Linked DNA regions of Homo sapiens: region 2 is linked to region 1. Evidence: fine-mapped expression QTL. Tissue or cell type: whole blood. Region 1 holds a variant in brackets; the other region holds the start of a gene. All regions are shown on one strand. Distances are between the middles of the regions. Region 1 overlaps PFN2 (profilin 2). Region 2 holds the start of ANKUB1 (ankyrin repeat and ubiquitin domain containing 1).

Region 1 (2,903 bases):
GAGAAATCACATCACCTTAGGACTTTATACAAGGTAACTGACCATTCACATGCAGTTAGGTAATATCCCAAAAAGTTTAGACTGCTGCCAAAATTATTCCAAAAATAAACAGTGTACATTTTGGTACCCTGTTGTAAATTATGGTATATCGAGGGAAAATTTCACTTTCCAAATTGCCTTTTAAAAAATAATGTTCATAATCAGGAAAAAAATAAATAGGTATTTCTACTTTGGAAAATAAACGGTTGAATTCAACATCAGCTATCTGATACCTCATCCCTCTTCCCCTTTTTTATAAAAAATTAAAGAACCACAGGCCTGAGAAACAGGACATCAAAGGTTACCACGGTAGTTAAGCAGAGTTTGGAATTTGACATAATTGTATGGCCCTAACCTTTTTAAACCTGCTTGGTCATTTGCATAATTTTCATTTAACCTAAGAGGGTGTGAGGAGAAAACATTGAGCTCAGTATCTGGCACATCAATGCGCAATAAGTAATAGCCTTCAAAATAATTATTATTAAATAAAAACAAACCTAAAACAATATTTTAAAATAGGAAAAGGGAAAAAAGTAAAAAGTCACGGTAATGGTTAAGTATGTATTAGATGTTATATTCCCTCAGTCTTTAATCCAAAGTTTAGAATAAGGACCTGGTCCCTTTATGTTAGGAGTTTTATGGAAAAAAAAATTTTTTTTTGAAATTCCAAATAATTACTAACTAACTGTAAAAAAAAATCTACGAAGTGTCTTATTTAGCAGCACTGGCTAGGGCTGTTACTAGGTTCTGTGAATGTTCACTTGAAATGTTCTATAATTTCATGGTATAGCTTTTCAAACAGGACAGTAGGTGCAATTAAAATCCAATTTCTATTTAAAAAACATTTAAAACTTTCTTGATTACAAAAGTAATATTAACACTAGAAATCAAAATATAGTCACCTGGAAACTTTCACTCCAGAGATAAATTTATCTTAATATATTGCCTTCAGAAATACATATGTAAAATACATGTATATTAATACTGTATGTATGTGCACTGTCATGTGACATGTTTATATCCTTATATTATTAACATTCATTGGTAAACATTCTTATGTCATTCTTCAATGACTATTTTGTCCTATGGACTTAAAATCATTTATTCAAACCATACCCCTTAAAAAGCTGAACTTTGTAGATATTTTCCAAGTTTGGATGTCATAAGTAATGCAGCATGATGGACATTCTGGTATACAAATTTGTATAGCTTCATTTCCATATGCTAAATTCCTAGAACTAAGTACAAAGCAAAGTACGCATGTATGTATTTCCCTAAGTATTTTTCTAATGAAATTGTGGGTAGAAAGCCAATGAATAGTTTCATTATATACTATTTTAGTGATACACTCACCCTTTACCACCTTCTCTACCCACAACCTCCTCTCTGAACACACACATACACACTGCCCCTTCACCTACTTACAGATTAATTAAGAGTTTCAGAATTTTGGTCACTGCCTTCTATAATTGGTTACCCTAATAGTTCTTTACATGTAAAGTGTGAATGTGTATTATTGTAAAATCTCAAATCATCACAACTCAACCACCAAATTTTCATTTGCCCCGTCTTTTGGCCTTAACAGGTCAAGAAACTGATACCAGGTTTTTATTATAGTTTTACAATTTCTAGGTTATGTCCAACTACCAA[A/G]ATAGCCCCAAATCCTTTATCTCCCATATTTGTACATCCCTGTGTATGTACAACCATATTCACAACCAGTGCCTGACAACTAGTCAAAGAAAAAAAAACTTTCATTATGCATAGTATATTTTAAGACAGGTTAATTCCTATTCCCTAACCCATTTTTTCTCAAAAGGTAGCATATACACCACTTAAAATGAATCAGACTGACTCAGTGATTGTTTCTGAAAAGGGATTCCTGGGCTTATGGACTCTCCATCTCCAGAGTGGAACCCCAGAGTCCATAGTCTGCCTTATAACCAGCTCCCCAGTTTTACTGAGACCTACTAACTTTTGAGCACCCCTGGCTCTAAGCGTCCGCTTGACAGTTGTTGGTAATAATGATTTATGTAAATAGCCCTAAATTTACATATTTATCAAACTTCAATATATATCAGGGATTTTATGGCCTCTGGATTTAAACCTATTACACAGCCATGGTCAACATGTCACTACAAAGCCAAAAAATGCAAAAGCATCCCAATTATCTTATATGCTGCCTAAGGAATGTCTTCTGCTCTTATGTGGGAGGGCCCCAGCTGGCTGACTTCAGCCTGCCAACACAGCTTCCAAATCTAAAGTCATATGACATTTCAATACAGAAAAATCCACAATAGTGCAGAAACCCTTCTTGGTACTCCCTTTACTATTAGATTTCACATCTAGAAACCAGCAAGAAGAGGAAAATACTTATTTTCTAGCAGATAAGTCAGTTGCTTCTCACATACTCCTGAAGATGAGCCTGAAATGACTAAAAGCTATGTGTAACAGATCAGAGTCCATTAAAAAGAAATTCCCAGGCACTAATTTTATCTGTAATATTACTTGAAGTAGGCCATCACCTAATATTGCTGAAGTTTTATGCTTGCAGCAGACTTTGGCCTATTCTGTGTATTCCCACTTTGTCAAAAATCAACTTTTAACAGTTTATATAAACAATGTATATAAACAACAGGAGCCTAGAGTATTTGGTTGGAATAAATTTATTTCATCTGTCTGTAAACAAGGTGTTTAATAGTTATGGCATTTTTTTAAATGCATATTAAATCAGATGAGTTAGACTGTATCCCAGATGTAACAAAGTGCAGGGAAAGAAATGGACAAATCAGCAACAAGATTTGTTTTTAAATCTGTACATTATCCACAAGGCCCAAACAATAGAAGCAAATACTAGAATGTCCCTA
Region 2 (2,930 bases), 170 kb before region 1:
TTTTCATATCACATTATAGTTGTTGCAAATATTTCAAAATATTATTTCTACTGATCTGTATTTTGAAAATAATAGTTATTAGATGAGCTGCTAGAACTTGTTAGTTAATGTGTTAATTAGGAAGTCCACATGTCACTATATCATACATTTGCTTTTTAATATTGGAAAATGTATTTCAATATAACAAATTTCATTTCTATCATATCTGTTTTATTTTATGCATTTAAAGACATTCTGAGAAGCAGTCTATAGACATCACCAGACTTCCAAAGGGGTTAATAAAACATAGAGGTTAAGATCCCTTGTGTTACAAGATTTAGATTTCAATCATCATAATAATCTACTGAATATCATGTAACTATGGTTCAGTAAATGCCGCTTAGCAAATAGGAATGACCATCTCCAAGTTAAATATTTGATGATCAGAAACTAAATATTTTGCTTAATTTTTTATTTTAGAGTGAACATTTATATGAAATTTATAAGGAAGATACTATACCCAAGTTATTTCTTATTCTGGCTCTGTGATCCTAGGTAAGATAGTCAACCTCTCAGAGCTTCAGTTTTTTCTGAATGCAAAATGAAGCCATAGCTCACAAGTTCTCTAAAGTCCTCTCTGCTTCCAAAATCTTCTGTTCTTTGTAGTTGTTTGCTCACCAAATAAGACATTTATCTGATGACTGGCATGTCCCACGTATATAGCCTGAAGTTGGTGTCTTGCTTTGGTCCTTTTATGAAGAATTGCAATAATATTATCTGGCCTATGCACAACCCACACATTCCCTAAAAAGAAGTCAGACTTTTTTTTTTTCTTGATAATTGACTGGCTCTTTTTGCTTTCTTGTCCAACACTACCAGAGTTACTATCTTCTTATAAATCTATTGTGTAAGCAAATAATAGTATTTTCAAATAGTTTTCGTTCCCTGTTTGCTGAAAATGTACCCAATAGCATCTCTACCCTTTGTACATTTTTAAATGCACTGCATTGTTAAAATTAATATACATTTTGGTGGTTTGGGAACGAAGTACATACCTTTATCATCAGCTTGACAACCTCCACAGTTTCATCTGCTGAAACATCAAACGGTTCAAAAGATCCTTCAAAGGCGATGAAAATCCTCATTGTACAATTACCTTTTCAAACAAAAAATATCCAACTTTTTCAAAGATTCTCCTGGATGGCTAGAAAAATTCCGGTTCACAATTAAGGACAAAAATGATAGCCAGAGGCAGCTGTCACTGTCTAGCCTCAAAGGTAAGTTGTAGAATGTGAAGAGCCTAGTCCCACAGTGCCACAGTATCAGGCAACACAGACACCAGCTACTTTGGAGGAAATATTTATCTGCGGAAGGCAGTAGTCAATAGCCACCTTATTCCTATATTACGGAAACCAGCAAACTTGACAATGGTTGAGGCAAGTATGGACAAGCTTCAAGCATGTGATACAAAAATGCTACTCATAAATTACACTTTTGTGATGTGGTCCCCATCAACTGACTCCTGAATTCTTATTTACATAAGTACAGCTGATTGAAGAACCCTTAAAAATAGATATTTGATTGGGATGCACTAGCACAGGGTGAAGCAAAACAAGAGTTGATTTTATTGAATGTGATAATCCTGAAAGTTCTCTGTAAATAACTCTTGAGCTGAAACATTCTGGTTTCCATAACAACTTTGTGTACTTGTTCTCTGGCAGTATTTATAATCCTGCCACAGGGTACAGAACAATACCCACTTGCACCAGGGAGATGAATGTGTAGGCAAATCATTCTGTGGCTTTCTTTTCTGATTTCTGTGTCATAGAATCTGCTGAGTAGCAACACAATATAGTTGGTATTTTCTTTAATCCTTGCCTTTATGTTATTTAGAACAATTTCCCATTGTTATCTCCTTCAACCCCCACTTAGTGTTGGTGGAAAATATTTCAAACCCGCTCAATAAGCGAGCAAATAAGCTGAACATGGTGGCACATGCCTGCTATCCCACCTACTCAGGAGGCTGAGATGGGAGGATAGTTTGAGCCCAGAAGTTTGGGGGTGTAATACGTTGTGATTGCACCTGCGAATAGCCACTGCTTTGCAGCCCAGGGAACATAGCAAGAATCTGTCTCTTCAACATAATAGAAGAAAATACTCCATTTATAAAAGGAAAGATAATGTATTAAGAATAAACTTGGCTGGGTGCGGTGGCTCACGCCTGTAATCCCAGCACTTTGGGAGGCCAAGTTGGGCAGATCACTTGAGGTCAGGAGTTCGAGACCAGCCTGGCCAACATGGTGAAACCTTGTCTCTACTAAAAATACAAAAATTAGCCAGGTGTGGTGGCACATGCCTGTAATCCCAGCTACTCTGGTGGCTGAGGCACAAGAATCACTTGAACCCTGGAGGCAGAGGTTGCAGTGAGCTGAGATCACACCACTGCACTCCAGCCTGGGCAACAGAGTGAGACTCTGTCTCAAAAAAAAAAAAAAAAAAAAAGAAAGAAAGAAAGAGAAAGAAAGAAAGAAAGAAAGAAAGAAAGAAAGAAAGAAAGAAAGAAAGATCTTAACAAGAAATGTGTAAGAGCCGTATAACATAAACATAAAATACAATCAATAAACATAAAAAAGGGCTGAACAAGTGGCAGGTATATCATAACCTTGGATGGAAGGTTCAAAATTATTTAAAGTCATCAATTCTTCCTAAATTTATCTATAAATTAATATTATCTCAATAAAAATACAAGCAAGATTTTTTTTGTTTATGTAAGCAAGATGGTTCTAAAATTCATGTAGAGAAAACAGGCAAGGATAGCTGGAAAAACTCTGGAAAAGAAGAGTAATGAGGGGGCAGTCACCTACTAGATGTTAGAATTTAATATAAGGCTACAGTAATTAAAACAGGATGGTACAGGCACATGAAGAGTCAGAAAAATCAATGTAAAAATA

What was found. PIP is the estimated chance that this variant, and not a neighbour inherited with it, causes the effect. A credible set is the group of variants that fine-mapping cannot tell apart.
Region 2: ANKUB1 starts here. The variant in region 1 is the best candidate, but not a certain one, in a credible set for the expression of ANKUB1 in whole blood (TOPMed, PIP 0.74).

Annotation. Positions count from the first base shown.
Region 1 is chr3:149,962,218-149,965,120 of GRCh38, forward strand. PFN2 (profilin 2) reads right to left here. Exons shown (of 3, transcript NM_053024.4): 3 at 2,687-2,903. Among named protein-coding and RNA genes, the nearest start is that of PFN2, 7.2 kb to the right of the region's middle. The variant A/G (reference allele first, on the strand shown) is at 1,690.
Region 2 is chr3:149,791,243-149,794,172 of GRCh38, forward strand. It overlaps ANKUB1 (ankyrin repeat and ubiquitin domain containing 1), which reads right to left and starts at 1,312. Exons shown (of 6, transcript NM_001144960.3): 1 at 1,035-1,312. The coding sequence starts at 1,124. RefSeq lists an enhancer at 1-198.